Linked DNA regions of Homo sapiens. The protein of the gene in region 4 interacts with the protein of the main gene of each other region in a pairwise test. Each region holds a gene or a part of one and is shown on either strand. Other genes may lie near its edges.

The links.
Region 1: the proteins of CBS (region 4) and FXR2 interact in binary tests that used the Homo sapiens proteins (3 or more experiments, as listed by UniProt).
Region 2: the proteins of CBS (region 4) and UBASH3A interact in binary tests that used the Homo sapiens proteins (3 or more experiments, as listed by UniProt).
Region 3: the proteins of CBS (region 4) and CYTH1 interact in binary tests that used the Homo sapiens proteins (3 or more experiments, as listed by UniProt).

What each region holds. Positions count from the first base shown.
Region 1 is NC_000017.11:7,597,493-7,605,341, forward strand, and holds part of FXR2 (RNA-binding protein FXR2), read right to left. Parts: intron 6,589-7,849; coding exon 6,517-6,588; intron 6,414-6,516; coding exon 6,265-6,413; intron 5,511-6,264; coding exon 5,417-5,510; intron 4,034-5,416; coding exon 3,917-4,033; intron 1-3,916. UniProt on the Homo sapiens protein: mRNA-binding protein that acts as a regulator of mRNAs translation and/or stability, and which is required for adult hippocampal neurogenesis. Specifically binds to AU-rich elements (AREs) in the 3'-UTR of target mRNAs.
Region 2 is NC_000021.9:42,413,344-42,421,192, reverse strand, and holds part of UBASH3A (ubiquitin-associated and SH3 domain-containing protein A), read right to left. Parts: intron 7,784-7,849; coding exon 7,670-7,783; intron 7,635-7,669; exon of another isoform or gene 4,885-7,634; intron 4,752-4,884; coding exon 4,582-4,751; intron 2,793-4,581; coding exon 2,584-2,792; intron 1-2,583. UniProt on the Homo sapiens protein: Interferes with CBL-mediated down-regulation and degradation of receptor-type tyrosine kinases. Promotes accumulation of activated target receptors, such as T-cell receptors, EGFR and PDGFRB, on the cell surface.
Region 3 is NC_000017.11:78,673,754-78,681,602, forward strand, and holds the end of CYTH1 (cytohesin-1), read right to left. Parts: intron 7,290-7,849; coding exon 7,218-7,289; intron 6,592-7,217; coding exon 6,437-6,591; coding exon of another isoform or gene 6,433-6,436; exon of another isoform or gene 3,298-6,432; coding exon of another isoform or gene 3,270-3,297; exon of another isoform or gene 2,417-3,269; coding exon 2,338-2,416; 3' UTR 295-2,337; downstream 1-294. UniProt on the Homo sapiens protein: Promotes guanine-nucleotide exchange on ARF1, ARF5 and ARF6. Promotes the activation of ARF factors through replacement of GDP with GTP.
Region 4 is NC_000021.9:43,065,821-43,073,669, reverse strand, and holds part of CBS (cystathionine beta-synthase), read left to right. Parts: intron 1-328; 5' UTR 329-404; intron 405-1,468; 5' UTR 1,469-1,476; coding exon 1,477-1,685; intron 1,686-5,054; coding exon 5,055-5,161; intron 5,162-5,265; exon of another isoform or gene 5,266-5,613; coding exon of another isoform or gene 5,614-5,892; exon of another isoform or gene 5,893-7,036; coding exon of another isoform or gene 7,037-7,145; intron 7,146-7,292; coding exon 7,293-7,427; intron 7,428-7,849. UniProt on the Homo sapiens protein: Hydro-lyase catalyzing the first step of the transsulfuration pathway, where the hydroxyl group of L-serine is displaced by L-homocysteine in a beta-replacement reaction to form L-cystathionine, the precursor of L-cysteine.

The DNA.
Region 1 (7,849 bases), on a different chromosome or scaffold from region 4:
TTTCTTTTTTTTGAGATGGGGTCTGTCACCCAGGCTAGAGTGCAGTGGCATGATCTCTGCTCACTGCAACTTCTGCCTCCCTTTTTTTGTATTTTTAGTAGAGAAGGGGTTTCACCATGCTGGCCAGACTGGTCTCAAACTCCTAACCTCAGGCAATCCACCTGCCTCGGCTTCCCAAAGTGCTGGGATTGCAGGCGTGAGCCGCTGCACCCGGCCCCTTTCCGGTTTTTAGAGGCTTCACTACTAGGCATGACTGATTAAATCACTGATCCTCAGTGATTGCCTTAACCTTTGGCCCCATTCCCCTCCCAGGAAGTTGGTGGGGGTGAGGCTGAAAGTTCCAACCCTCTAATCATGAAGCCACCTAGAGGGGCTAGCCATGAATCAACTCATCAGCACACAAAAACACACATCACTGGAGATTCCAAGGATTTTAGAAGTTGAATGCCAGGAGCCTGGTCAGGAGACCAAATATGTATCTCTCAGTATCACAGAGCCTGTCAGTCCTACTGGTTTTACTCGTAAAATTTATCCTACATAAAACTACTCTCTCTCTCTTCCTTTAGCACTCCAGTTCAAGTTTCTCACCTGGACTACTGTGCTCTGTTCCTGCTTCCATTCTTGCCCCCCTTTCCATCTGTCATTGAAACAGGAGTTTAAAACAGAAGGCACTTTCGGCCGGGCACAGTGGCTCTCGCCTGTAATCCCAGCACTTTGGGAGGCCGAGGTGGGTGGATCACGAGGTCAGGAGATCAAGACCATCCTGGCTAACACGGTGAAACCCCATCTCTACTAAAAAAAAATACAAAAAAATCAGCCGGGCGTGGTGGCAGGCGCCTGTAGTCCCAGCTTCTCGTGAGGCTGAGGCAGGAGAATGGCGTGAACTTGGGAGGTGGAGCTTGCAGTGAGCCGAGATCACGCCAATGCACTCCAGCCTGGGTGACAGAGCGAGACTCCGTCTCAAAAACAAAACAAAACAAAACAAAACAAAAAACCAGAAGGCACTGTTAACTCAATGGCTTCTCAGTATACGCACAATAAAATCCCCCCTCCTCAGCCTACCGTACATGTCTTACATGATCTACTCTCTGACCGAATTTTGTATCGGTCTCCCTTTGCTCACTCTGCGCTAACTACACAAGCTGCAGTGAGCTGAGATCGCACTACTGCACTCCAGCCTGGACGACAGAATGAGACTCCGTCTCAAAAAATTAAAAAACAACAACAAAAATTAGGCCGGGTGCAATGGGTCATGTCTATAATCCCAGCACTTTGGGAGGCCAAGGCAAGTGGATCCCTTGAGGCCAGGGGTTCGCGACCAGCCTAGCCAACATGGTGAAACTCCGTCTCTACTAAAAATACTGAAATTAGGGCCAGGTATAGTGGCTCATGCCTGTAATCCCAGTACTTTGGGAGGCCAAGGCAGGTGGATCACCTGCGGTCGGGAGTTCAAAACCAGCCTGGGCAACATGGTGAAACACTAAAAAAGCAAAAATTATCCAGACGTGGGGGCGCGTGCCTATTATCCCAGCTACCTGGGAGGCCGAGGCACAAGAATCGCTTGAACCCAGGAGCGAGAGGTTGCAGGGAGCGGAGATTGTGCCATTGCACTCCAGCCTGGGTGACAGAGGGAAACTGTCTCCAAAAAAAAAAAAAAAATAGCCAGGTATGGTGGCATGCACCTGTAATCCCACCCACCCAAAGGCTGAGGTGAGAGGATCACTTGAGCTCGGGGGGTAGAGACTGCAGTGAGCTGAGATCGCACCACTACATACACTCCAGCCTGGATAACAGACTGAGACTCCATCTCAAAACAAAAAACAAAAACAAAAAATAAAGTTTGTATCATCTGAAGGTAATGGTGAATTTTTACCTGCCAGTGCCCTGAGCAGGATCCCTGAAGAAGTCAAAGATTATCATGACCCAGAAATTGCACAGGCACAGAAAAAAGCCTCCCAAAAAGATCAATTCCCTTGATAAATGGAAATGGTATTCAAACACACACACCCTATTCACTTAGAATAGTATAATACCAACGAAAGGGAATCTGACAATTATACGATGTCAGAATTCAAAAAGATCTCACAGAAATACTCTAGTCAGGCCAGGCGTGGTGGCTGACACCTGTAATCCCAACATTTTGGGAGGTCGAGGTGGGCGGATCACCTGAGGTCCATAGTTTGAGATCAGCCTGGCCAACATGGTGAAACCCCATCTCTACTAAAAAAGACAAAAATTAGCCAGGTGTGATGGCACACACCTGTAATCCCAGCTACTTGGGAGGCTGAGGCAGGAGAATCGCTTCAATCTGGGAGGTGGAGGTTGCAGTAAGCCAAGATAGCGCCACTGCGCTCTAGCCTGGGCGACAGAGACGCTATCTCAAAAAACAAACAAAAAAACAAGAAATATCCTTTTTTTCTTTGAGATGGAGTTTCACTCTTGTTGCCCAGGCTGGAGTACAATGGTGTGATCTCGGCTCACTGCAACCTCCGCCTCCCAGGTTCAAGCGATTCTCCTGCCTCAGCCTCCCGAGTAGCTGGGACAACAGGCGCCTGCCACCACGCCTGGCTAATTTTTGTAGTTTTAGTAGAGACGGGGTTTCACCCATGTTGGCCAGGCTGGTCTTGAACTCCCGACCTCAGGTGATCTGCCCGCCTCAGCCTCCCAAAGTGCTGGGATTACAGACGTGGGCCACCGCGCCCAGTCATATCCTTTTTTTCTTTGAGACAGAGTTTCACTCTTGTCACCCAGGCTGAAGTGCAATGGCGCAATCTTGGCTCACTGCAACCTCCACTTCCCAGGTTCAAGCGATTCTCCTGCCTCAGTCTCTCGAGTAGCTGAAATTACAGGCATGTGCCACCACGCCCAGCTGATTTTTGTCTTCTTAGTAAAGATGGGGTTTCACCAGTCTCGACTCCCAACCTCGGATTGATCTGCCTGCCTCGGCCTCCCAAAGTGCTAAAGTGCTGCGATTAAAGGCGTGAGCCACCGCGCCCACCCTAAAAAATAAATATTCTAGTCTAGGCTGCATGTGGTGGCTCACACCTGTAATCCTAGCACTTTGCAAAGTACAGGCAGATGGATCTCTTGAGCCTAGAAGTTCAAGACCAAGGCCGGGCGCAGCGGCTCATGTCTGTAATCCCAGCACTTTGGGAGGCCGAGGCAGGTGGATCATGAGGTCAGGAGTTTGAGACCAGCCTGGTCAACATGGTGAAACCCCATCAATACTAAAAATACAAAAATGAGCTGGGTGTGGTGGCACAAGCCTGTAGTCCCAGCTACTCAGGAGGCTGAGGCGGGAGAATCGCTTGAACCCAGAAGGTGGATGTTGCAGTCAGCTGAGACTATACCATTACACTACAGCCTGGGTGACAAAGTGAGACTCCGTCTCAAAAAAAACCATTCAGCCAGGTGTGGTGGCTCACGCCTGTAATCCCAGCACTTTGGGAGGCTGAGGCGGGTGGATCACATGAGGCCAGGAGTTCGAGGCCAGCTTGGGCAACATGGCAAAACCCCATCTTACTAATAATACAAAACTTAGCCGGGTGTGGTGGCGCACGCCTGTAATCCCAGCTACTCAGAAGGCTGAGGCATGAGAATCGCTTAAACACAGGAGGCAGGGGTTGCAGTGAGCCGAGATCGTGTCATTGCACTCCAGCCTAGGCGACACAGCGAGACTCTGTCTCCCAAAAAAAAAAAAAAAAAATTGGCTAAAAGAAATTTGAAAATAATTGCACTATACCATGATAGAGCTCTGCCATCTGGAGGAGTCTGAGATAAAATAGCTGACCCAGGTTTAATTGCCCAGAAAAAGCCTTAGTCTTTGTTCTGTAAACACAAGATCATGGATGGAGGACAGGGTAGGAAGGGAGGAAGACAATACCCTTCAGCAGAAGGAAAAGGAGCTAAAAGTTACCTCTAGGTGCTTGGTAGCTTCTTCATTGCGGGACATAAGTAGCAGTTTGGTGCGCAGGCTTCGGAAATGCATATCACCCAGCAGAGATGCTCGCTTCACAGGGGCTTCTGTGGTTGACTGGGAGGAAACCAGTGGGAAAGTCATTAAAACTGGCTTGGAATAAACACTAAGGGAGAGCCAGGGACTAGAAATCAGGATGCCTAAGTCCCGGGAAAAGGGTTAAGAAATGAAGCTAGGAGACCGGGCGCGGTGGCTCATGCCTGCAATCCCAGGACTTTGGGAGGCCAAGGCAGGCGGATCACGAGGTCATGAGATCGAGACCATCCTGGCCAACGTGGTGAAACCCTGTCTTTACTAAAAATACAAAAATTAGCTGGGCGTGGTGGCACATGCCTATAATCCCAGCTACTCCAGAGGCTGAGGCAGGAGAATCGCTTGAACCCGGGAGTCGGAGGTTGCAGTGAGCCGAGACTGCGCCACTGCACTCTAGCCTGGTGACAGAACAATACTCTGTTTTCAAAAAAAAAAGAAATGAAGCTAGGAAGGAGGAGACTCATTGTCAGTCCCACAAAGGCTGACTATCAGGGTACTGAAGGAAAATGGTTTAGAGAGAAAGCAAGGAGCAAGCATAAGGTGAGAGCTACATACTCTATTTCTGAAAGTCCAAATATCAAGAGAGGGTCTCTAACCCAGATGGCAACATGATTATCAGGTTTAAAAAAAAAGGGTCAGAGGCCGGGCGTGGTGGCTCACGCCTGTGATCCCAGCACTTTGGGAGGCCAAGGCGGGCGGATCACGACGTCAGGAGTTCAAGACCAGCCTGACCAATATGGTGAAACCCTGTTTCTACTAAAAATACAAAAATTAGCCGGGCATGTCGGGCGCGGTGGCTCACGTCTGTAATCCCAGCACTTTGGGAGGCCGAGGCGGGTGGATCAGGAGATCAGCAGTTCAGGACCAGCCTGGCCAACATGGTGAAACCCTGTCTCTACTAAAAACACAAAAAAAAATTAGCCAGGCGCAATGGCAGGCGCCTGTAATCCCAGCTACTCGGGAGGCTGAGGCAGGAGAATCGCTTCAATCTGGGAGGTGGAGGTTGCAGTGAGCCGAGATCGCGCCACTGCACTCCAGCCTGGGCGACAGAGTGAGATTCCATCTCAAAAAAAAAAAAATTAGCCGGCGTGGTGACGCACACCTGTAATCCCAGCTACTCAGGAGGCTGAGGCAGGAGAATTGCTTGAACCCGGGAGGTGGAGGTTGCAGTGAGCCGAGATCGTGCCATTGTTCTCCAGCCTGGGTGACAAGAGTGAGACTTCGTCTCAAAAAAAAGAAAAAAAAAAGGTAGGGCTACCTGGGCCTGTAGGAGTCAGGAGCAATAAAGTCCTCTTGACAAATAAATATAAGCACATTTAAGCCCTTCTCTTTCTGCAAAAGGGTTAAAAAGGGAAAAAGAAAAAATGTTCAAAAGGCTTATGTGAAATTCAGGCAGAATAAACTCACCAGAATGAAGAGCTCACTGTTTGTGATGTTGAGAAAGATGCAGTTGGCTCCCAGGGCTTTCTTGAACTCTTTATGGACGTTTTCATTGGAGCAGCTGCAGAGGAAAAAAGTACTCAGCGGGCAGAATGCAGAGAGTACAGTGAAGAGTTCGGGGGAGGCTGGACATGGTGGTTTGCACCTGTAATCCTAGCACTTTGGGAGGCTAGGGCAGGATGATCACTTGAAGTCAGGAGTTCAAGACTAGCATGGGCAACATAGTGAGACCCTGTCTCTATTAAAAAAAAAAAAAAAAATTCAGAGAAGCAGGGCTGAGTAAATAAGAAAAGAAAAGGGACTGGGCCGGGTGCGGTGGCTCACGCCTGTAATCCCAGCACTTTGGGAGGCTGAGGCAGGCGGATCACTTGAGGTCAGGAGTTTGAGACCAGCCTGACCAACATGGAGAAACCCTGTCTCTACTAAAAATACAAAATTAGCCGGGTGTGGTGGTGCATGCCTGTAATCCCAGCTACTCGGGAGGCTGAGGCAGGAGAATCGCCTGAACCTAGGAGGTGGAGGTTGCGGTGAGCCGAGATTGTGCCACTGCACTCCAGCCTGGGCAACAAGAGCAAAACTCTGTCTCCAAAAAAAAAAAAAAAAGAAAGAAAGGAAAAGAAAAGAAGAGGGACCACAGTTAAAGAACAAGGATGGGAAAATAAAGAAACTAAGTGTCTTCTTAGCAAGAAGGGCTCTAGTAGAGGGCCAGGGGAACAACAGAGAAAACTGCAAAGTGGGAGTGATGCCTGGGAGAAATAAAGCCAGAGATTAGGGCTGTAAAGAGGGCCCTCATTCCCACCATCCTTAACACTCACGCTTCTCTCAGATCCTCGGGCACAGCCATGGTAACCTTGAAGAAGCTGCCTTTGGTTGCAAGGGGATTGGGATTAACTGGCCGAAGTCGCTCCAGGGTAACAATTTCATTGTAGGTGGCATCACAGGCAGCATATTCAATGACATAGAACTGGCACATGGTAAAAAAGGAGAAGTTGTGGATGACCTGAGCAACTTTCTATGAATAACATATTTGTTTCAGTAGTTCTCCAAAGGCATTCCCAGTCACTCACATCTCCCTTCATCATCCGCACCCGGGCCAGCCACCAGCCACAAGGTTCCTGTTCATTGGCTCGAGAATAAACCTAAAGAAAAGTAGAGAATCAAAGAGATATTGAAGACCACCCAAAAGCATCAAGAAAGGGATGAGGAGGCCGGGCATGGTGGGGCTCACACCTGTAATCTCAGCGCTTTGGGAGGCTGAGGCAAAAGGACTGCTTATGCCCAGGAGTTCAAGACCAGCTTGGGCAACATAAACAATAGAACAACCATTAAGATATTTGGGGCTGCTGGGCACAGTGGCTCAAGCTTATAATCCCAGCACTTTGGAAGGCCAAGGTGGGAGGATCTCTTGAGCTCAGGAGTTCAAGAACGATCTGGGCAACACAGTGAGACCCCACTTCCACGAAAAAAAAAGAGGCCAAGCGCGGTGGCTTATGCCCATAATCCCAGGACTTTGGCTGAGGTGGGCTGATCACCTGAAGTCAGGAGTTCAAGACCAGCCTGGCCAACATGGTAAAACCCCACCTCTACTAAAAATACAAAAATTAGCCGGGTGTGGTGCCACATGCCTGTACTCCAAGCTACACAGGAGGCTGAGGCAGGAGAATCACTTGAACCAGGAGGTGGAGGTTGCAGTGAGCTGAGACCGCGCCACTGCACTCCAGCTTGGGCAACAGAGTGAGACTTCATCTCAAAAAGAAAAAAAAGGTATTTGGGATGCATCTTTTTTTTTTTTTTTTTGAGACAGAGTTTCGCTCTTGGTGCTCAGGCTGGAGTGCAATGGCACAATCTCAGCTCACTGCAACCTCCACTTCCTGGGTTCAAGCGATTCTCCTGCCTCAGCCTCCCAAGTAGCTGGGATTATAGGCGCCCGCCACCACGCCCAGCTAATTTTTTGTATTTTTAGTAGAGATGGGGTTTCATCATGTTGGCCAGGCTGGTCTTGAACTCCTGACCTCAGGTGATCTGCCCCACTCGACCTCTCAAAGTGCTGGGATTTCAGGTGTGAGCCACTGCATCCAGCCTGGGATGTATCTTAAACCAAGGATACAAGAAACCAGAGGAAGGAACTAATTAAAATCAGAGGACGGCAGGGCATGGTGGCTCATGCCTGTAATCCCAGCACTTTGGGAAGCTGAGGCGGGTGGATCACCTGAAGTCAGAAATTCAAGACTAGCCTGGCCAACATGGTGAAACCATGTCTTTACAAAAATGCAAAAATTACCCGAGCATGATGGCAGGTGCTTGTAATCCCAGCTACTTGGGAGGCTGAGGTGGAAGAATTGCTTGAACCCAAGAGGCGGAGGTTGCAGTTAGCTGAGATCGCGCCACTGCACTCCAGCC
Region 2 (7,849 bases), 650 kb from region 4:
TCTCTTTTTTCACCATGTGTACTCTGACCTCTGCCTGCTCTCTCCACTCTCCTAACTGGAACCTGGGAGAAGAGAGTGAAAAAGCTCACAAGAGCCACCTTAACACTTTGCAATGGCTTTATGGTGTGGCAACTTGGCCAGACTGAACGACAGTTCCTAGACTTCCTTTTTAGCACATGTCTGATCAGGGTGGGCTACAAGAGGCATTCTCATGAGAGCTGGAGGATGGAAGGGAGGCAGTAGCCATCCTAAGCATCACACACAGCCTTCCTAGCTATCCCATCAAATGCTAGTCTAGGTGCTGCTGGAAGGAGATTTTACAAATGTGACTAGAACCCCTAATCAGTTGAGCTTAAATTAATCAAAAGCAAGGTTATTCTGAGCAGGTCTGACTTATGCAGTTGGAAGGCATTTTTTTTTAAAAACTTAGGCTTTCCTCACACTCAGAGACTTCAATAGCAGCTGTGTCTGTGACTGCTCTCCCATCACCCGGGTGGTCCTTCCAACTGCCACATGTGGACAACAAGCTTCAGCTTGCCCATGGGTTTTCAGCCTAAGTAGGCTCCTCCCTTCCTGCCTGTCTGCCCTTGCTTAGCTAGCCCCAGTAATTCCATAAGGCAATTCATTGTAGTAAATCAATATAGATGTGTGTATACATATATACCTTTCCATATATATATGTGTGTGATACATGTGTATATAATATAAAATACTATGTATGTATAGTCAGCCCTTTGTATCTGGAGGTTCTGCATTTGTGGATTCAACCAACTGCAGGCCAAAAATATTCAAAAGATTAATCAATTAAAAAATAGCAATACAATTTAAAAAATACAAATAAAAAACAATACCGTATAACAACTATTTGCATAGTATTTATACTGTATTACATATCACAAGTAATCTAGAGATGATTTAAAGGATACAGGGTGATGTGCATAAGTTGCATGTAAATACTACAGCATTTTATATCGGGGACTCGAGAACATGAGGATTTGGGTATCTGTGGGGGTCCGGGAACCAATCCCTTGCAGATAGCAAGGGACAACTGTACATATACTTATATGTATTATATATTGTATGAAAGTGACTGGTTCTGCATCTCTGGTTAAACTTTTACTAAATTTGGTATCAGGAATGGGGTGCTACTCTAACAAACAGTGGATGTTCTTCAACTTCAGATGGGGTTATGTTCCAACAAACCCATCATAAATTGAAAATGCATTTAATGCACCTAACCTACTGAACATCACAGCTTGGCCTAGCTTACCTTAAACACGCTCAGAACACTTACAGTAGCCTATGATAGGGCGGAATAATCTAACACAAAGCCGATTTTATAATCAAGTGTTGAGTATCTCATGTAATTCGTTGAATGTTGTACTGAAAATGTAGCACAGAATGATTGTATGGGCACTTGAAGTACAGTTTCTATTGAACCCATATCACTTTCGTAACATTATGAAATCCTAAGCCAAACCATTGTAAGTTGGAAACCTTCTGAACTTAAAATGTGGAAACAACTTTGGGACTTGGCAGCGAGTAGAGGCTAAGAGACTTTTGAGTAGCACAGCAGAGAAAGCCCAAATCACCATGAACAGACTGCTAGAGGAAATAGGGATGCTAAAGGTGAATCCTCCGGGGAGAACTCAGAAAGGAATGTGACAGGTGTTCCAGGAAATCGGAGCAAGGAGGATCCTTCCCATGTGTGCCAGAGAGTTTAATGAAATTGTCCATGGAGAGCAGGACTTGTAAGCGATGATGTTGGTCACATAGCTAAGGCTATTTCCAAACAAAGTGTTAAGTGTATCACCTGGTTTCTTCATGTTATTTATAGTGAAGCGGGAGAGGAAAGAGATAAATTGAGGGAAGAACATCGAACAAAAAAGAACCAGTATCTGATGATTCTGAAAATCCTTAGCCTCACCAGATGATGCTAAAAGGTGCTAAAATTAAGAGATTCTTCAGCTGATGAAGAAGCAACTCACCAGGAGCCCTACAGCTTCAAGGAAATCACTCCCACCAACAACTGTGTATGCTCAGGCGAGGGTGTGAAGCCTCAGTGGGGAGCCCAGCCCTGGCAGGCACCTTGATTACAGCCTTGAGACCCCGAGCTGAGGACCCAGTGAAGCTGGACTCTGACTCTCAACCCATAAATACCATAAGATAATAATTGCACTTTGTTTTAGTGGTAATTTATTATACAGTCATAGAAAACTAATAATACGACCTAGGACTTTACATTTCATACACGGAGCAGAAGAATAAATAAACCCAAGCTCAGGACCTCTGAGTATAATTTATTATGTGTGTGATAAAGAAGTAGTATTTTGCAGTAATTTGGGGATTACCATCTCAAATTACTCTAATGCAGAGTAATTCATTCTTTTTTGAATGTTATCATCAGAAAACCAGGGACGAACCAAGATGTTTACTATATACCTGCAGGAATAATTTTGTCAGCATACAGAATGCAATTTTACCAATAATGGAATGGTCTAGAAGCACACTGTTGGCAGGTGGGCACTCTCACACAGTAACTCAGAGAGAGATGACGGGGCTGCAGCCAGAGGCAGCACTCACCTGTGCTTCACCCACGTGTCAGACTCACTGGCTCGATCCGTGTAGTTTTCCGGCAGGAAGCCCCGGCAGCCCGTCCGCTGTGAGATCCCAATCACCCAGCCCTCGCTGGCTTCGTCCTGCTGCGTGGGGTCCACAAAGATGTAGTCACCAGGACTTAGCGTCAGCTCATCCACGTTCTGGGGTTTGTACTGGAATAGGGCTCTCAGGGTCTAGAAAAGAGGCAAAGGGGTTTCACGTCTCGAGCAAAGATTTACATTGGAAAATGGCAGCAATAGGAGGCCTATCACCTGCCACCTCCTGCTTTCTGCCCCTCCAATGTGTTCTGTGTCTCCAAGACTCCATCCAAAGCTTTGTCTGGCAATATATAGCACAGAATGTAATGAAACGCAGCATAGAATTCTTTGGATAGATTTAGAAATACATTTTGGGGCCAGGCGCGGTGGCTCACGCCTGTAATCCCAGCACTTTGGAAGGCCGAGGTGGGTGGATCACAAGGTCAGGAGTTTGAGACCAGCCTGGCCAATATGGTGAAACCCCGTCTCTACTGAAAATACAAAAATTAGCTGGACATGGTGGCGGGTGCCTGTAGTCCCAGCTACTTGGGAAGCTTGAGGCAGGAGAATCACTTGAACCTGGGAGGCGAAGGTTGAAGTGGGCGCAGATCACTCCACTGCATTCTACCCTGGGTGACAGGGTGAGACTCCCTCTCAAAAAAAAAAAAAAAAAAAAAAGAAAAAAAGAAAAAAAAAAGAGATACATTTTGGGATCTATCCATCATCCATCCATCTAGGTACTTTTTTGTCTACAAAAGATCTGAAGGCATAAGCAGACTTTCACATCCGCCTTCCTCGGTGTGAGGTTATTGACACCTCATACGATACAGAACATGGTGGATTCATTCACACGTGCTCTCTGGGTCTGAAAGGAGCATCACACACTTCGTTTCTAAACCCATCGATTCATGGGCAGGAAGTCCCAGAATGAGGTTTCACTCAAATCATTCTTTAAAGTGAATTGTGCTCACTTTGGCAGCACATATAACTAAAATTGGAATGCTGCAGAGAAGATTAGCATGGCCCCTACATTTAAAAAATAAATAAATAAAAAAGAATTAATAAGCAAAACATGTATTCATAGATCTTTACAATAGTCCTTTCCTTTCTGTCTTTTTTTTTTTTTTTTTTTTTTTTGCCAGTCTCGCTCTGTTGCCCAGGCTGGAGTGCAACGGTACGATCTCTGCTCACTGCAACCTCCACCTCCCAGGTTCAAGTGATTCTTCTGCCTCAGCCTCCCGAGTAGCTGGGATTACAGGTTCGTGCCATCACGCCCGGCTAATTTTCTGTATTTTTAGTAGAGACAGCGTTTTGCCCTGTTGCCCAGGCTGGTCTCGAACACCTGACCTGAAGTGATCCACCTGCCTCAGCCTCCCAAAGTGCTGGGATTATAGGTGTGAGCCACCACACCCAGCTTCCTTTTCTAATATTGGAAATGCTTCTATTTTGTTGTCTGTGCATCTCTAACTCACATATAAAAGAATGCTGGTTGTAAATTGCACAAGAAAGAGAATGGCTTTAGAGAAGCAATAGAAATTTTCCTTGCTACTAACATATCTCCCTTGGAGGGCTCCAGGGGGTACATGCTGTCAGGTGAGTGGCCGTTCACTCATCTGCTTCTTTTTTTGAGACGTCTCGCTCTGTAGCCCAGGCTGGAGTGCAGTGATGCTACCTCCACTCGCTGCAAGCTCCGCCTCCCGGGTTCACTCCATTCTCCTGCCTCAGCCTCCTGAGTAGCTGGGACTACAGGTGCCCGCCGCCGTGCCTGGCTAATTTTTTGTATTTTTAGTAGAGACGAGGTTTCACCATGTTAGCCAGGATGGTCTCCATCTCCTGACCTCATGATCCGCCGCCTCGGCCTCCCAAAGTGCTGGGATTACAGGCGTGAGCCACCGAGCCCAGCCCATTCATCTGCTTCTTATGAGCCCCTGCTCAGCTCTCTCACCTGGTAGTGCACAAAGCGCATGTCTCGGGAGTAGAGTGCTGCGGTCCACTGGCAGCTGTGGCCCAGGGGGATGGCTCTGGCCAGCTGCTCCAGCGTCCTCTGGTGGTGGGGGTAGAACTTGTGGGCCAAGGTCAGATGCAGCTGTTTGGTGCAAGGCTTCACGGAGCAGTCTGTGAAATCAGGGAAACACAGAGGGTGCCAGGACACCGTTACCTAAATGTCTCCTTCCTCCGACCTCCATGCTTCCTCCACAAGGCAAGGGCTCTCAGAACTCAGAGCTCATTTGGCCCGCTCAGAACTCACATCATAAAGGAGATGGCTGGATCCCTGTAGATTTTTCCAGGAAGTAGGAAAGAGGACGATATGGAGATGTGGGTTCAGGGTCTCGGGGGCCTATCGGTTTGCAGGCTAGCTGCCCGAATGCACGATTCAGATGCACAGAGTAAACGGCTCCTCCATTCCCCGGGGTGTGCACGTTACCCAGTGGCCTGGACTTGCAGGCCCGAGCTCCAGTTCAACGGCTTTTTGTTTAATCGTAGAGTTTCAAGAAGAAAACTCTTTAGGCAACAAAACTATAAAACACACAGTGTCTTTAAGGTTCACCTTGTTTTGGTGAAGCAGGAAGTCCTGGGAGTGGTTGAGCCTCAGGTCTTTTTGGGTGTCCTCTGCCCCTGTGGCCCTAGCCCTCCCTGGTCCTGCCAGGGGCTCTCAGGTCAGTCTGAGCAGAGCAGCTGGCATCACCAAAGCAGCCAGGATCTGATTTCAGTTGAGCCACAAAGTATTTTATGTCCTAGGGAGGCGGTCTGTGTCTTGACGGGAACAACACAAACTTTGGTGTCAGATAGACCTAGTTTTAGGCTGCACTTTGCCCCCTTTTGCAGGGTGACCTTGACTGAGCCTCTGGGCCTGCCCAATTTCTGCTTCAGCAGCATCTGCTGGAGGACGGCAGCGCCTGCTCGCCAAGGCTGCAGTGGGAAATCAGCCTCCTAACCTAAAGTTTCCTGCTAGAGACGCCGTGTCGGTGCACAGACGTACCCTGCCCCCACTCCACGGCAGGGCACTTACAAACAGGATCTGCTCACCCCCTAAAAAAGGTCAAGGTTGATGCAAGCCTTTCCCTGGAGCCCCGAAGTTGGGGCTCACTGCTGTCTCCCACGTGAGAGGTGAGCCTTTAGAGGCAAATGGGAAGCTCCCACGGTCTCTAGGAAAGCTGGGGCACTGAGGCTGCACAGCCCAGAGCAGCATGAGTGTGTAGGTGGTGGGGAGCAGCATGAGTGTGTAGGTGGTGGGGAAATTCCTTTCCTGACTTTTGTTTTTAGCAGTCGGGGAGGACCGCCTTGCCATGCGAGTGAGTGTGGCCTGGGAAAGACCCACTGCAGGTTGCTGACGTCAGAGTGAGTCACACCGACTTCTGAACGGGTCCTTGCGTTTCCTTCTCTCTGCGGACCTGTGCCTATGGGCACGTTTCACTGGGGAGGACCAACGCGGGCAAGGGGGCCTCATGCATTTGCCCCAAGAGGGACCTCGGCCACTTCAGAGCAGTGACTGGTCACTCATCACTGAGAGAGTCCCCTCCACCCCCTCGGTGTCAGGCTGAGAGCATGGGCCATGGAAGGGCAGGACACAGCCTGCTTAGGGTCGGGGCGTAGATGTGAGGTCAACGCTGGCTCCCACAGGAAGTGGGGCTGCCCAGCATGAACCCAGGCAGCATGGAGCAGGACAGAGGTGGGTTCAGGTCCCTGCTCCGCCAGCCTGGTTAGGGGACTAGATTGGTTTCAAACAACAGAAATGTATTGCCTCCCATTTCTGGAGACTAGAGGTTCAAAATCAAGGTGTTGGCAGGGCTGTGCTCTCCCCGAAAGCTCCTGGGAAGGGTCCTTCCTGGCTTCTTCCAGTTTCCGGTGGCCCCAGGCGTCCCTTGGCTTGTGGCTACATCACTCCAGTCTCTGCCTCAGTCGGCACATGGCTTCTCTGTGTCTCTGTGCGGCCTCTACCCTTACGGGAACCCACCCTAATGCAGTGTGACCTCCTCCCAACCAATCGCATCTGCACAGGCCCTATTCCCAAGTGAGGTCACATTCCCAAGTTCCTGGTGGACAAACATTTTTAGGGGACACCGCTCTACACACCACAGGACCTTGGGCAGGCCCTTCACCCTTTGCAGCCTCAGTCTTCCTGTTTTTAAGATGCTGCCAATGAGGTTCACTGGGGGAGGGCCTGGGTGTGAAAGAGCCATCATTTGATAAAGGATACTAATCCACAAAGACCGGGGGCGACTTTCTAATTATTCAGCAGATTCGATCTCCAGACTCACAAGCTGCCATCCAAGTGGAAGCCCAGGATTCAGGGATGGATTTACAGGCCAGGATCTGTGCTTCATACATGTCTGAGCACAGACAGACACGCTCCCAGAGAGAGAAAGTGGGGAGCCCTCCCACCAAGGCACTGCGGCCTCGTCAGATTTTAGAGTCGGCAAATCTCAGCAATACTGAGTGCCTTCTGTGTCCCGGGAACTATGGCAGGATGGGCCACAGACTCAGGCAACATTGTTCTTGAAGAGTGAGAGCCCTCATTGTTTTGTAGAGAAAGAAAAAGAGACAGAGAGAGTGGACATGACTTGATTAAGGTCATGCCACTCATCAGGGACACAGAAAAAAATCACATCTTCTGACGTCAAGTCCACAATCCTTTCCACTAAACCCCAATGGTAGCCTTGGTCTCCAGGCCAGGGCTGGTGTTTGGAGAGAAGGGAATTTTGATGATTCTGAATATGAGTCTAAATAATCTTTCCCTGGAGAGGCCAAGGAGAGAGCACTAAGCTCATACTGAAAATACAGAAATAAGTCACGTAGGACTTGTGTGTCTCCCACTCAAGGCTGGGGTGGGGAGGCCCTGACTCCCTGTGTGCACCAGCCTCCAACCCCGTCACAGTCACCCACTCAGGCTTGATGCTTGGCACACCCTTCTGGGGCACTTTCCCAGGCTGTTGGCATATAGCTAAGCATTTTAAAAACCACATAATGAGAACAAGGCTATTCCCGCCTAAAGAGAAGACCAAAGCTGGTCCGGAAGCTTTCTAATGGCTTACATTTTTGAAGGATGTAGTGGCTCACGAAGGAGGCTCTAGTTAAATTGCTCAGCCTCAGGTTAGGGCCATGTCCAGGCACCTGGCTGAAAATCCAGAAGCGGGAAACGGAAGTGCCTGGGTGAGGACAGGTGCAGCCACTGAGCCCGGAAGAAAGCCCACCCAGCCATCCCACCATTGCTG
Region 3 (7,849 bases), on a different chromosome or scaffold from region 4:
AAATCATACTAAAAATGTATTATATTGACTGAAGGCATATTTCTTGATCTTAATTTAAAACTGATGTTTCACGTTTCTTCTAAAAAAGTGGGGGCGGTGCAAAGACTAAGTTACTTATCTTTTCTGACTCTGCTCTTCTTAACAGAAGACAGAACCCTCCTCCCACTTTCAAGGTGTTACAACTGAACTCAAGGTGCAGCTGGAGTAACACCCTCCTGCACAAGTGTCCGGTCAGCACCCCTTTCCCACCTCGAGGGCCCCGCCTGAGCCCAGAGACACCGCGAACAACAAAGATGGCTTGGGCAGAGTTGGAGTTTATTTGCTGCAGTTCCTTGGCGCTAGTTTACAAGGCAAAAACAAACAAACAAAAACAATTAGAATAATTATTTCTTAAAAACCCTGTCAACAACTTTCAGTCATTTCTTTATATTTTTGTATTTTGACAAAACTTCTTTTAAACAAATACAAAATAATCTAAAAGGAGAAAAACTATACATAGATTATTTACACCTCTGATAAATAGACTAATACTGACCCAGGTGCCTCTCTGTCTAGGAAACACTTGAGAACCAGGCCAGGGCCCGGGCCAGCTGGACAGGCTCCAGCACCGGCCCAAACACGCCCAGACCTCGGCAGGCACCACCTGGTTCTCCCACCCAGAAAGTTCAGGTTTCCAGCCTGGACCCTCTTCTGTCACCCTCACAAGCTCTGGCACAAAAGTGCCTAAAGCCATTCCCTCCAGGTAGGATCTACACAAAGTGGCGGGGAGGGAGGTGACAGACTGTCCCCCTCTATTCCTCCCACCACTCCTCTGCAAAAGCTATTTCCAGAGATGCTCGCCAACCCTAAAGGATCAGAGGAGCCGTGGCGACGCGGCCCTGTGAAAACCCGCAGCTCCTCCACCTGCCTCCTCAGGGCTGCGCCCTGCACCGCCCTGGTCCAGGGTCCTGTGGAGGGGCGGGGCGAGACGGCCAGACAGCCAGCCACCTGCTCTGCCTGGACTGGCATGCTGGCCCTGGCGGAGTGGCAGGAGCTGCCCTGAGAGTCCCTGAGAGAACGGCAGGAAAATGCTGCGTGTCACGGCTCCCTTCATACTGTAATGAGGAGGGGCAGGGCCAGCTCACACAGCGCCTGCAGGGGAAGACAGAGATGCGAGAGGCAGCCCGGCCACCCCCCTCACTCCAGTGCACCCCACGGAGCAGATAAAGGCCCATCTTCCCCTCTAGGGGGCCCACCACAAAATGCATCCAGAGTAGTCCAGTTAGGGCTGGTTTTGAGGCAGAAAAAGCTGAAGCCCTACGGGGATCGGGGAAGTCCTACTCCTTCCTCTAGAACGAGGACTGGAGTCTGGGGAAGAGGAAGAAAACCCAAAATGAAACAGGTTATCCGGAACCTCTGTCCCGATAACCTTCCTCACAGTTTTGGTTATTAGGTATTTAGCTCAAGGAAAATGCTGACTTTCTACTTTAAAGCCCAACAAGAACTTGGATTCTGAAGGAGGAAAATAACGTAAGCGTCCAGTCAGCTCTCTCCTCTCCTCGGCGCTCCGCAGGCACTTGGGATGGAAAAGCATCCGCGGGAGATGCCGGACTGCACGCTGCTGCCGACTGCGACCCCGGCCAGGGCAGGCCCCCGACTCTGACTGTGCCGTCTGAGGCTCCACTGGGCCTCTGCCCTCTGCGTCCTCGACCTCACCTGTCCATCTCGCCCAGACAAGCACCAGGCAGCGAGCTCCCACAGCACAGGAGAGGCAGGCCAGGCCCTGCCGCGGGCCCAGGCTGATGCCCCTTGGCCGCAGCCCCAGGTGCTCTTCTCCAGGGAGAAGCTCCCCAGCGCAGCCAGGGCAGAATGCACCTGAACAGCCCTACGTTCTCTCTTAAAAAAAAAAAAATAGATCTTTATAGTATGTGGCTTCTCTTCCTTTCCACCTTTTTCTCTTAACATATAATAATATATGGACACATGTATTTATGGTGCAGGGTTTGAAGGCTTCTTCACGGGGACAACCAAGAGGTAAACAGTTGGCTCTGAGCTCTGCTACCAGAACACTGAGCAGAGAAACTGGCCAGGAGGCTGCCCTGCCGACAAGAGCTCTGCCCTGTGAGAGAGGAAGGCTCTGGAGCCCATGCTGGACAGGTGGCCGGTCCTCTCTTCCCCAGTGATAACTGCCCACCCTTCTCCCACTTAAAAAAAATAGCAAAAGCTGAAGCTAGTCTCTAGGAATCCAGGGCGGGGCCTGGCAGAGGACGCTCTGCTCGGCAGCAGTGCATCCATGGAGGTGCGGGAGAAGAGCAGGAGCTCCAAGGCCCCCGCAGACCAACGCCCTTGGCTGCACGCTCAGTGTCGCTTCGTGGAGGAGACCTTCTTTTTCCGTGCTGCGAGCATTTCGTAGAAAGGGTCCCTGCTGATGGCTGCTCTGGAGCACAGAAAAGGGAGAAAACAGAGACGTGAGGGACAGAATCAGAAGAAACACACCCAGGCAGGGGATTCTCAGGGGCCCCTCGTGCCCCAGAACACCTGTCCCACCCCACCATCACTGCAAAGGCCAAGTTAGCGTCCTCCACCCTTGCTGTGTCCACACAGTGACCTAAGGTGACACACTTCGAAAGAGACACAGGAACACGTGACAAGAAAATTTTGGGGTTTTTACCTGTTTCAACATAATAATCAATTCACATTTAGGAACAGAATCATACCACATTCTTACAGCTATATTCCAATTCAGAGAAAAAGACTGGTGCTTGAGTTTCCATGATGACATCTGACTTTGCTTTGCAGCAGCGAGTGCCACGTAATCAAGCCGTGTCACATGCAGTCCTCTGGCACGGGGTGTGTGATAGCTGGCATGGTAATGCAGTGGGGCCTTCCAAGCCCCCCACGTGCACCTGCTCAGTAACTAAGGCTCCATGACTCTGCAGGCGGCACTGCCCAGCACGATGCTGCTGGTGGGGCACCATGGACAGACCGGCTGGACCTGGCTGGGTCTCCGGTGCACAGGGAGGGGGCCCGAGCTCATGCTTGTGCTACAGCCTCAAAGACAGCAGCGCAGGCCGCGCCGCGGGCTGGAGCACCTGCAGTGGACTGGCAACACCACAACCCTATGTCTGCCATTCTCGACTTTCAAGCAACTTATGGTCTAAAAGTCCTGACACTTAATTTCTTTCCAGGGAAGCTGTATCCTAAGTGATGATTTGTTCCAGAGCTCGGGCACAAGCCTCCTGACTGCAGGCAGGGCACTCACCCCTGCTGAACGGTGGCACCAGCAGCTGCTATGGCTCTCCTGGGCTGACCTGGAACCTATTCACAAGAGACAGTGTGTCCATGAGAAAATGCTTCCGCAGCTCCCCGGGGAATGCTAGGAACTGAAGAGCACTAGAAACATGTCCCGATGGGATCTCACTGGGAAGCGGTCTGACCACCTGAAGTGCTTTCACGAGGGAATCTGGCGGCCGGGACACCTGCTTTCATGTTTGGAGGTGTTGGGGTGAATCTCCCTTGGCTTCCTGGGTAGGCCAACCCTTTCGGGTAAGCTGGGGGGTTCTGCAGAGAGGTGCGTGTGGCACTGCCCTGTGTGCAGAGGCAGAGTGTCAGGCGATGAGGGGGGCTGGGCTGCGGTCGGACACCAGGCCCCAGGCCCGGCCCTGCCTGGCCCTGCCTGCTGCTTCTCAACTCCCGCTTCCTCACATGCAAGCTGGAGATGCCCCACCTCCACCTCCCTGGGTTCCGGAGAGTCAAAAAGAGATCCCATATTCAAAGAGCACATCTCAGCGCCTAGCCGACACACTCGATGGCAGCCGCTGTTACCGCTGACACGCAGTTCTACTGCTGTACCTCTGGGTACAGCGTGAAGAAAGTCCCAGCATTAGAGAACACACCTGATTCTACAGAACCGAATGCTGGGACCACCCACACGCAGGGGCACTAGAACTGAGGGTGCTGGGAACTCCAGGAAAAGCACTTCGTGAGAGGAAAACACGTCCTGAACTTGACCTCGAAAGCCTTTCTGGCAATACTGGGGAGGAGGCATCCACCAGCCAGATCATCTTCCTGCTCCTGTTGTCACCAATGTTTCCACTGGGAGGAGTATCTAGGGCCAAGGACAGCTGAGGCTGCACGGTGGTTACCAGTGCAGCTGCATGAGTCACACTGCTCAGGTTTGAGGACCAGCTCCACCTCTGTGGGGTTTTGGACAACTTACTCAACTTTGCTGTGCCTCAGTGTCCCTCATCTGTGAAATGGGGATAATCCTAATGGTCCCACCTCGCACTGGGTGCAAGAAGGTTTGAGGACAGTGTGCCTGCAGAGTGCCAAAGGGGGTGTCTGCAGATCCCGAGGCTGAGGCCAGCCCGCTCCGGGACAGAGCAGAGGAGTCCAGCAAGCCCACAGGAGAACTTGGCACTCACGCTCATGAAAGGATTGAATGATTCTAAATGTGACTTTGAAAAATGCTTAGTTTTTCTGACTATAGAAGTAAAAACCATATGAAAGACACATGTACAAAACCAGCCAAAACTGTTTTGAAAGACCAGTGAGGGAGGACAGGGAACTCGCCAGCCAGCACAGTCAAAGGACACCACGATGCCACAGGGGGAGGGGCGGGCGGCGCTCACGCTGGGAGGCGCGGTGGAGCAACAGGTGCATGAAGCGTGGTGGGGGAGCTGGGTACACTCTAAGGAGAGCATATGAAGTCAGTGGGGGCGATGCCAATGAATCCATAAATGGTGTCCGGACCATCAGCTATTCATTCATGAGAACAAACTTAAACCCTTACTTCAAATCTTATATAAAAAATACATTTCATAATGATTCAATAAATTTTTTTTTCAGTATGTTAAAAAAAAGGATACCGGTCCCCCACAACACTGCTGTTTTCTTCCCCAGAACACAGGGCTGGTGCCATTACTGGTAGGGGACTCTGAAAACACCGTGGCACCGCGTCTGCTCAATGGAGGGTGGGCTGGCCCCCGCTCAGGGCCACACTTCCCATGATGGCTGTCATGCCAGGGAAGCTGCCAAACCCCATGCCCACTACACAATCTCATTTAATCCTCAAAAGAGCCCCATGAGGCAGAAATGACCTCTATCACACAGAAGAGGTAGGTTACCCACCTACCAGGCACTGCGCTCAGAGAGACAGAGCGAGGAGTCTCAGCGCAGCGTGACCTGGCGCCAAATCCATCCTCTCTCCAGCTGGTTCCTGTCTGTTTTCATTGCATGAATTTTCAGATTACTTTTGAGAGGATAAATCATCTATTCCTTTCCCTCCATCATCACATCATCTCCATCTTCAGTCAGTTTTAAGGTATTTAGCTTGGGCCAAAACCTACACTGGTCTGAGTAGAAATACCAAAAGATAAAACAAAGGCTAGAGGATATTGCACACCCTCGGGAACGGGGCTGTAGCCTGGGTGGGAGAAAGCCCGTCACACAGTACACAGAGGACTTACAGGGACCTTCGCAGTCACCTGTGGGCACATTCTCCCTGTCTTCCAGGTGAAGTCACACAGGCAGCTGAGGAGTCTTTCTCAGGAAAACAGCTAGGTGAACTCTCATGGATGAAGCACCAGGAGGGAGAGGGCAAGGCTGTGCTCTTAGGAGAAAGGATCACTGAGAGAAGGCAAAGTCAGAATGCTCACTGCTGACCCTCGCACAGGGACTGGAGGGAGGAGAAAGCATCACTGAGAGAAGGCAAAGTCAGAATGCTCACTGCTGACCCTCGCACAGGGACTGGAGGGAGAGCCAGGCAGACCAAGTCCCAGGGAAGAACATTAAGCAAGAGAAGCCAACTGACTTTAGAAAGCCATGTTTCCAGATACTTGTCACATGAGGAAATTTCCAGCCCCGTGATAGACCTTACATGGCGTGGCCCAGTGGAGCCAACAGAGCCGAGAGGTAGGAGTCAGAGGCCTGGACTTGGGAGCTCCACTTCTTAGCTGTGGAACCCTGAGGAAGCTTCTCCCTCCTCCCGGACCTTGGATCACGGTATGTGACTTCCAGCAAATTTCTTAACCTCTATGGGCCTCAGTTTCCTCATCTGTAGCTAGGAAAATGGTGTCTCACAGGATTCACAAATTACAGAACATGACTACTATCTCCTCTGAGCTGTCACTATGAGAATGAGAGCGGCTTCGTCAGACACAGAAAGACCAGTTGAGCAGATGGCATCTGTGTGGGTAGCTCACTCGCCTCTTCCTATTTTGGGTCTATGAGGACACGTGGGGAACCCAGATGGGACGTGCTCTCTTACATATGCTATAATAGCCAAGAATCCAAAGGCCTCCTGGGAAGCCGTCAGCTGGGAACCAGGACGAAGCTTCCCTAAGAACTTGGAGCACAGAAGAGATGCGGGCGGCATGTTTAACCACTAAGATGATCAACACCTGGTGAGGTGAGGGCTGCACCAGGCGCGCACTGCCCTTTCTCAGCAGTCACTTACTTAATGCACTTAATCCACTCCTCCTTCTCCTCGGGCGTCGGAGCTGAGATCCGGTAAACAGTGTGGTTCCCCTCCACCACCCGCCCGTCAGCCTCGGTCTTGCAGGCCTTGATAACTTGGTCTTTATTGTCGGGGATATAAAGCTCAAAGCAGTTCTGAGAATCAAAACAGAGAGGGAGAGAGTGGAGCAAAGGAAGCTGTTAACTGAGAAACATGCTGATTTCTTTCCCCAAAACCCCTTTCTTCTGACCTTCACAAAATACAAGGAATACATATTTTCCTGTGGAAAAGTGAAGCCTAGAAGCGGAATTCTAGAGACTGTAAATTGTATAGAAGTCAGTCTCGTTTGCAAACACACCGGCCTGATATAAGCTGGCCCCACTTGCAATGTACGTAAAATGCGGAGAGAACTGCAGGTGACTCACGACTTTAACTTCAAGCCAGTAACATCCTGACAGCCCAAAACAAAGGAAAACTAAACGGGAGGTGTCCCAAGGGTATAAACTACATAGCCCACTCCTGCGTGCTTGCCGCTGCCATTGCAGGAGGGGCAACTTCTACACCCCATGTGACATTCACTAAGTGAAACGATAAAGCAGACAGACGGCACAGGAAGAAGTGATTTCGAGTCTCATCTTTGGCTTGAACAATATAATAAAAAATTAGACTAAATAAAAGCCTGATCACGCTTTTCAGTTTTTTGGTTTTGAGTTTTTTAAAAAAAATCTTTGAAATGCCCATCCCCTTTCTCCCCTCAAAATATCTCAGCAAAAATACTCACTGGTTTTTTGGAGTCCTCCACTTCCCGGATACTCAGATTCTCTAAAGGGATGATTCCACGGGGCTCCTTATCCTACAGAACAGTTGAAGAGAGGAAGTTTAAGATCACAGTTTAAGGACACACACTGTCAGATTCCTCGCCGGTGACTCAGCCGAACTTTCCTGCTTTCTCCCAGGACATGAAGTTCATAAATCAGCCTGAGGGAACTCCTTACATTCTAAACAAGAATAACACCAAAAATGTCTGAGGATTGTCAATATAACTGCTAAGTCCTCCGCGAGTAGAAAGACCAGAAGATTCAACAGACACCGTGAGAGTGTGGCCGGCAGTGACCCGGGCACGGTCCTCAAGCAGGGAGTGTGCGGGCCCCTTTCCCTCTTCCCTTTGCCTGGCTCTCCCACTCACCTCTGAAGCCTCAGTTCTGGGGCAACAACTCCAGGAAGCCTTTCCTAGTTTCACCCTAGCGCCCCGATGCCTGGGACTGCAGCTGTGGGTCTGACCATTAACCACTCACTGCCTCTGTCCATCGCCCCACCGCCAGACAGTACAATCCTCAGAGACACTGCCATCCTGACAACTCCACCTGGATTTCCAAAGGCACCTTGACTCCTGTCCAGAACAGAGCTGCACCC
Region 4 (7,849 bases):
CTCCCGGGTTCAAGCGATTCTCCTGCCTCAGCTTCCCGAGTAGCTGGGACTACAGGTGTGCGCCACCATGCTTGGCTAATTTTTGTAGTTTTAGTAGAAACGGGGTTTCACCATGTTGGCCAGGATGGTCTCGATCTCTTGACCTCATGATCCGCCCGCCTCGGCCTCCCAAAGTGCTGGGATTACAGGCGTGAGCCACCGCGCCCGGCCTATTTGTTACAATTAATGAGCCAATTCCACGATCACATAACCATTGTTGACATTAACCAAAGTCCGCGCTTGAGTCAGATTTGCAGAGTTTTCTCCTCACTGCCCTTTTCTATTCCAGGATCCCATGACAGATTCTGTTGTCACGTCTCCTTACAGAGTTTGAGCGGTGCTGAACTGTCAGCACCATCTGTCCGGTGAGTGACGGCTGTGGACTTAGTCTTCCTGTTGAATGTGGGGAATCAAAGGAGGGTGAAGCGGGGCTGAGCCCAGTCCTGGGCCCTCTGAAGAAGGCAAGGTGGGAGGTGGTCGTGGGTTCCTTGTCCCCCCAGAGGAGGGGCAGCAGATGGGACCTCGCCTGGCTTTCTTTTTGCTTTCTTCTTTTTTTTTTCTGTCTCATCTATTTCAGGTGCGTGTGTGTGTTTTTAATCCTGGGTAAAATACACGTAACACTGATCACTGTAACCATTTCTAAGTGTGAGGCAACCACCGTGACTATCTCCACCCAGAACGTTTTCATCATCCCCAGCACAACCTCTGCACCCATTAAACAATCACCCTCCCTTCCCCACTCACCTCAGCCGCTGGCCGCTTCTATTCTACTTTCTATCTCTATGAATTTGCCAGACATAGAGGGGCGTTCGAGAGTCCCAGGTGCCTCATCGTGGAAGTGGAATCACACAGTATTTGTCCTTTTGTGTCTGGCTCATTTCGCTTGGCATAATGTCCTGAAGGTTCGTCCGTGTTGTAGCGTGTGCCAGAATTCATTTCTCTTAGGGCTGAGTAATATTCTAGTGTGTGTATGAGCCTACTGTGTGTGTTCATCCGTCTGCGGATACGTGGGCTGCCTCCACGTTTTGACTTGTGAATAGTGCAGCAGTGAGCATGGGTGTGCAAGCATCTGTTTTGTTGTTGTTGTTTTATTTTTTAAATAGAGATGGGGCTGGAGCCCAGGCTGGTCTTGACCTCGTGGACTCAAGTGGTCCTCCTGCCTCAGCCTCCCGAAGTGCTGGGATGAGAGGCGTGAGCCACCGCACCCGGCCCAAGCAACTGTCTGCTTCCATTTTTTTTGGTATATGCCTATAGGAGAGAAATGGCCAAGCGGCTGCCCACAGGGCTGGTGCCTGTGTTTTTGTGCAGTTCTTCCTGGGCTTCTCTGAGGGAGCAGAGCACGCCTCCCAGAGGGGGCCGGGTCAGCAGGGTTCGCTGGAACCCCACAGCATCCGAGCCTGAACCGACGCCTCTCTCCTTGCTTTGCCAGGTCCCAGCATGCCTTCTGAGACCCCCCAGGCAGAAGTGGGGCCCACAGGCTGCCCCCACCGCTCAGGGCCACACTCGGCGAAGGGGAGCCTGGAGAAGGGGTCCCCAGAGGATAAGGAAGCCAAGGAGCCCCTGTGGATCCGGCCCGATGCTCCGAGCAGGTGCACCTGGCAGCTGGGCCGGCCTGCCTCCGAGTCCCCACATCACCACACTGCCCCGTAAGTCCTGCTTTTGATCACAAGAGGGCTGATCCATAACCTGGAGGGCAGGAGTTTGTTACCTGGACACCACACAGCCAGGAGGACATGAGGTGTAACCCCCTGTAGTCACTCTGGATTGAGGAGCTGGGGGTGGGGCCATGCCGTGTAGATGAGGCTCTGAGAGGCCAAGGCCTCCTTACGCTGCAGCCCAGCGCCTAGGCCAGTGCCTGGCAAGACAGTGGATGCTCAGCAAGTAGTTCCAGAATAAATAAATAAATGTGCCCAGGTCACATGCTTTGCCCGGTCTGTGGCTGCGTGTGCACATTCACTGGAGGTGAGGGACCAGGATCCTGCCTGCGCTCTCTTATTTATTTATTTTTTATTTTTTTGAGACACGAGCTGGAGTGCAGTGGTGCAATCATGGCTTACTGCAGCCTCAATCTCCCCCAGTTAAGGGATCCTCCCACCTCAGCCTCCCAAGTAGCTGGGACTATGGGTGCCCACCATCACACCCAGCTGATTTTTGTATTTTTAGGAGATGGGGTTTCACCCAGGCTGGTCTTGAATGCCTAGGTTCAAGTGATCCGCCTGCCTTGGCCTCCCACAAGTGTTGGGATTACAGGTGTGAGCCACCGCGCCCGGCCCAGCCTGCACTTTTCCGTTAACTCTAGGTCATGAAGACTTCCCGTAGGCATTACATATTTTTCCATAAGGGCTGTTTTTCTGGTGGCACAGACTGTTCGGTGAAGAAGCCATCATTTTGTAAGCCCTCTACGGGGTAGATAGATGTTTGCAGTTACCTCATTTTACATAACTGCAATAGAAGATACGACACATTCATTTAGCCAACAAGTCTTTCCTCAGCGCCATGTGCATTTCGTGCCCTGCTCAAGGCGCAGAAGATCTATCAGTGGAAAAGACAAATCAACAAAAATCCCTACCCCAGCATGAAACTGAAATCAAGCTCACTAAGCCTTAGGATTATCTTTATTTCCTTAGTGTAATCTTGGAGGAGAACAAATAGATCAAAGAATGTGCTTCTTAGATGTTTGATTCCTTTTTTTTTTTTTTTTTTTTTGAGACAGAGTCTCGCTGTCACCCAGGCTGGAGTGCAGTGGCGCGATCTCAGCTCACTGCAACTTCTGCCTCCCGGGAAGCGATTCTCCTACCTCAGCCTCCCTAGTAGCTGGGATTACAGGCATGTGCCAGCACGCCCGGTGGATTTTTATGCTTTTAATAGAGATGGGGTTTCACCATGTTGTCCAGGCTGGTCTTGAACTCCTGACCTCAGTTGATCCACTCGCCTCGGCCTCCCAAAGTGCTGGGATTATGATTCCTATTTTGTGTCCACCACTACCAGCGTTTATGGTTGTTGATTTACAGTTCAGAATGGGTGGGGGTGGCTGGGTGTACTCTCAGTGCAGCAATAGAAAGAAAGAAGTGACAGTGGACAAACCCAGAAGGTCTGAGTGTCAAACATACTCAGTGCTGGGAGCTCAGGAGGCCAAGCAGATGTGTGGGCAGCCAGGAGGATGGGCTCTTGCTGCCAAGACAAACCCAAGAGAGCAGTGGGTGAGAGGCCCGGTGAGGTCGGGAGTGGCTGCTGGAGGGTGGAGTGGGCAGGGAAGACAGGCCCGATTCCTGAGGGCTCCGTGAGCTCCTAACTCTAGGGCATGAGAAGGAGACGATGCCCTCCAGGTTGTAAATGGCGTTGCACCTGCACCTCACATACTGGCCTCATTCATCCTCCGAAGACACCCCCATCCTGAGACGCAGAGCCGACGCCGCTTGTCTCCAGTCGGAGGGCCCCTGAGAATAGTGGCGTTGCGGGGAGGTGCTGCAGAGGTGGGTCAGGAGTTGGAGGTTCATTCTAGGACAGTGGCGTGTCCTCCCAGGAGCCTCTTGGGCTGTGGAAGTGGGAGTCCTTGAGATAAGGGGCTCCAGGGCTATCCCTGCAAGTCACATCCTTTTTCTTGCTAAGCGCTCTGGGCCTGGCCCTGATCACCTCTGCAAACTTCTCAGGTAACTTCACAGCCACCGAGGCCCAGTGCTGAGTCAGCACACCTGCTGCAGGGAGGCGGGACTCTTCCCGCCTGGCTGGCCAGATGCCCGAACTGAATTAATGAACTAATCCCCGGCGCTGTCACCCTGGGGCTTGGCTTTCCACCTGGCCCTGGCTCTCTACACCTGCCAAGCCTGGTTCCCTTCTGCCGAGAACTGCTTCTGAGGGAACCTCCCTGGCCCCTGTACAGTTTGGGGACCTGGCAGGACTGCCTTCTGCTCCCCGGGAAGGGTGCGATTGGATTCCAGCTGCTCTTGTTGGCGCCTGTTTTGGCCTTCAGGGTAGCTCTCCCTGCAAATGTGGCACTCCCTCCATGGCACAGGACCTCTGGGAGCTGGGTTCACCCCAGGTCTAAGGGTCGCCTCCTGGGGGGCAGGACCCAAGGACCCTGGCTGTTCAGCAGGTGACTGTGCTGAAGAGGGGGCCCAGGGTTAGCCACGGGGTGTCATCGGAGCTGCAAGGCCCAGGGAGGGGTTGCGGGTCTGGAGACCGCTGTAAGCCATGCGTGTTCCCAGATGAGTATGTGGTGAGCTTGGTGCAGATAGATAGGGGGTGTCATCAGCATCTCCCTGGGGGAGGATGGCAGGGGCATGAGGGCCATTTAGGAAACCACCTGGACCAGGGTTTGAGGGTTTACACAGCCAGATGCTGCAGGGCAGGGCATCACGAGCCTGGCCGACAGCGCCTCTGCCGGGGCTCTGAGTCTGCCACGTGCCTGACATTTTCTGTGCAGGGCTAGACATCCCGCCTGCGCTTTGCAGCCATTGTCCCTGGTCTAAGGAGTCTCTGCCCTGACACTTTTTTGCTTCCTATGGTCACATGCTGAGAGATGAAAGGAAATGTCATCTCCAGTAAAGCCTTTCTGAAAAGGTGGACCTAAACCTTTGTTTTGGAGTCAGTATTTGCTTATTTTAACTTTTTTATTTGGAAATAATTTACTACTCACAATAAGTGGCAAAAATAATAGATCCTTTGTACCCTTCTCCCAGCTTCCCACTAACAACATCTGCCACGACTGTAGGTTCATTTTCAAACCTGGGAAGCTGGCATTGGTGCAAATAAACCACAGGCATGATTTGCTTTTTATAGATTTGTATGTCTAAGCATGTGTGTGTATGTGTGTTTCAGGCGTGTGTGTGGGATGTGTGTTAGGTGTATCTGTGTACAGATTTGTGTAACCACCACCCAGATAAAGCCAGTTCTTTTTTTTTTTTTTTTTTTTTTTTTCCAGTTCTTCGAGTGTTGATTTGTGTAAGACAATGTCTGCCAGGGCTGGTACTATTTTTTTTTTTTTTCCTGAATAATTGTGGACTCCTCTGTTTCAGGGCAAAATCTCCAAAAATCTTGCCAGATATTCTGAAGAAAATCGGGGACACCCCTATGGTCAGAATCAACAAGATTGGGAAGAAGTTCGGCCTGAAGTGTGAGCTCTGTGAGTGCCCTGGCTTTGGAGAGGGGCTTCCTCCATCTACACTGGGCTCCGTGGGCCTGGGGGGTCCTGGGGGGTCCTGGGATGGATCCCTTAGGCAAGGCCCTGGGATCAGAAAACTCGCTGGTTAATGAGTGGCCAAGAACATATCAGCTTAAGTTTGGGAAAAACACACAACAGGGCATTGTGTCAGAGGGTGACCAAAGTGACTCCCCAGCAGATGGACCAGGGAACGAACAGGTGACCTTTGAACTGAGGCCGGAGTGGAAGCAGCGAGGGTGTGAAGGGCCGGGTGAGGGTCAAAGGCAGAAGCAAGCAGGTGGGGAGGGTTAGCGTCATGCCTGCTAAGGAGCAGTGGACGGGTCCTAGCACGTGCTGTGAGCCACCCGCTGTCCAGGGAGCGGTTACCTCTGTCTTGCCAGCTTCGTGGGGACAGATAGTTCAGCTCATCATTTATGAGACAGAGAATGGGAATTTGGAGGGTCTGTGGCTGGCCTCGTCCTGGGTGCGCAGGGGGTCACCTGAGGTGTGGTCTGAGGCCTCCGGGGAAGGGCATTTCTTTGCAGGACGCAGTTTCCAGGCTCAAGAACGTGGAGGGAATTCCTAAGGGTCGCTCTTCACCAAGAGCGCAGAGCCCTGGTAGACCTCAGCATCGTCACAGAGAAAGCTGTGGGTGCAGAGGCCTTGGGGACAAGGCGGGGACGGAATTTCGTATTTCAGATGACCAAGGCCAAGTGAGTTCGGAGGGAGGCAGGAAGGGTGCCGCGGAGAACCCCGCGACAGGGCCAGATGGAGGGGGTGGAGTTCGAGTGGGAAGGAGAGGGAACCAGTAACATGGCTTGGGACTTTTTCATCCTGAGATGCTCTAATGTCCCAGCCGGGGGACCTGTGAGAGCTGGGGCAGGCGCTGGGGGAAGGAAGTCAGGGGTCGGTGCGTTGGGAACCGATCGCCGATTCACAGGAGGGGCCTCGTGGGAGCCTGGCCCTCCTCTGCCCCCCTCTAGGGAAGGAGATCTCGGAGCTGCAGCAGAGCAGCCCCCTTCACAGAGACCCCCAAGGCAGCAGGGCCGGCTCTGTGCTCATTTGTCAGACAATAGGGACCCTTAACTCGTACGCAGCACGCGTGGCTGGCTCACTGTGCTCCGTACAGGATGACGTCTAAACTTGGTGGTTGCCCTTGAAGTAGGTTTTGGAATGCCCGTTTTACAGACAGACACACCGAGGGTCAGGTTGGTCACGTGGCTTGCCGGAGGCCACCAGCTCTGATTTCTGCTTCGGAGCTGGCCCCCAGGCGCTAGTGAGAATGATCTAACTGAGGGTTTCACAGTATGGGACCCAGAGGGGTCCGAGAATGCAGGCCTGTAGAGGGCCAGACCCCGAGAGTCCTCCCCACCACACACAGCGCCTCGTCCTGGTTCTAGGGGCAACACCTGTCTGGTGGTTGCTTTCAGAAATTTTGAGGTGCTGCAGGCTGGTCCCAGGTCCCTCAAATCACATTTCATGCAGCCCAGTCTCTCGCTCTTAAAAACTAAATATTTTTAAGAGCTGGAGAGGGAGAGAGGACTTGCAGTAAGGAAGGAAGTGCAAGTGAAGGCCTTGGCCTTGTGCGGGAACCGCGCAGGGAGCCCTTCCCCGGGCAGGTGACGCCCCACAGGGGGAGGAGGACAATGGGAGGCTGTAGGGAGAGTATGCGAGTCCCCATCCGATGGGGAAGCCAGTGCTGTGGCTTCAGGACATCAAGCTGCTTTGGCAGGGGCCGCTGGGTATGGCTGGGCATAGGGGCGTAGGGGACCCAAATCCAGGCGCCTGCCCGCCACAAGCCCAGCTCGTGGGTGGGGGGACGGGGTTTTCTGCGGCGCCCCCCAGTGAGGGCTGCTTATGCCTCTCTGGTTCCCACAGAGTTGCTCAGCGCCCTGCAGGACCGGTAGGATGGGCTGCAGGGGGAGAAGCTCTGATAGGCTAGTGCCCAGGTGCAGGTGTAGGGGAGGTGAGTGGAGAGGTGGCAATTTTTCAGAACCCACAGACCCCCAAGCCCGTCCCCCACCCTGGGGTGTATCAGGTAATGGGGGGGTGAGCAGGAATCAATGGGGGGGTGGTCAGGGGGTCCCCTCTGTGATTCATCTCTGCCTCCCAGTGGCCAAGTGTGAGTTCTTCAACGCGGGCGGGAGCGTGAAGGACCGCATCAGCCTGCGGATGATTGAGGATGCTGAGCGCGACGGGACGCTGAAGCCCGGGGACACGATTATCGAGCCGACATCCGGGAACACCGGTGGGTGCCAGGCCCAGAGGGGGTGGCCAGGGCTGGCTGTCCCCTACCCATGCCGAGCCTGCCGGGACCCGGGGGGGATGGCTGAGCTGCAGCCGCATGTGCTGGCCCGCCTGGCCGCCTGCTCCCTGGCATCTTGCACCCGCTGCCGGCCTGTGTCCCAACCTAGCTTCCTTTGACCAGCATTCGGGGCCAGTGCCGATGCTCTCGGGGCGATGGCACCTGGCAGTGCCTGGCACACAAGACGAGCACCCGGAGTCTGCTCTTCCTGTGCCTGTGTACCCGGCTGGGCCTGGAGGAACCAGATCTCCTGTCCTGCGCCGCTGCCTCCTCCTCCTTGACGTGTACCTTTTATTTCTGCCTCTGGCAGCCTCTCTCCCCCTGCACTTGAAGGCAGAAGCAGCCATGTTGGGCAATTTTGGAAT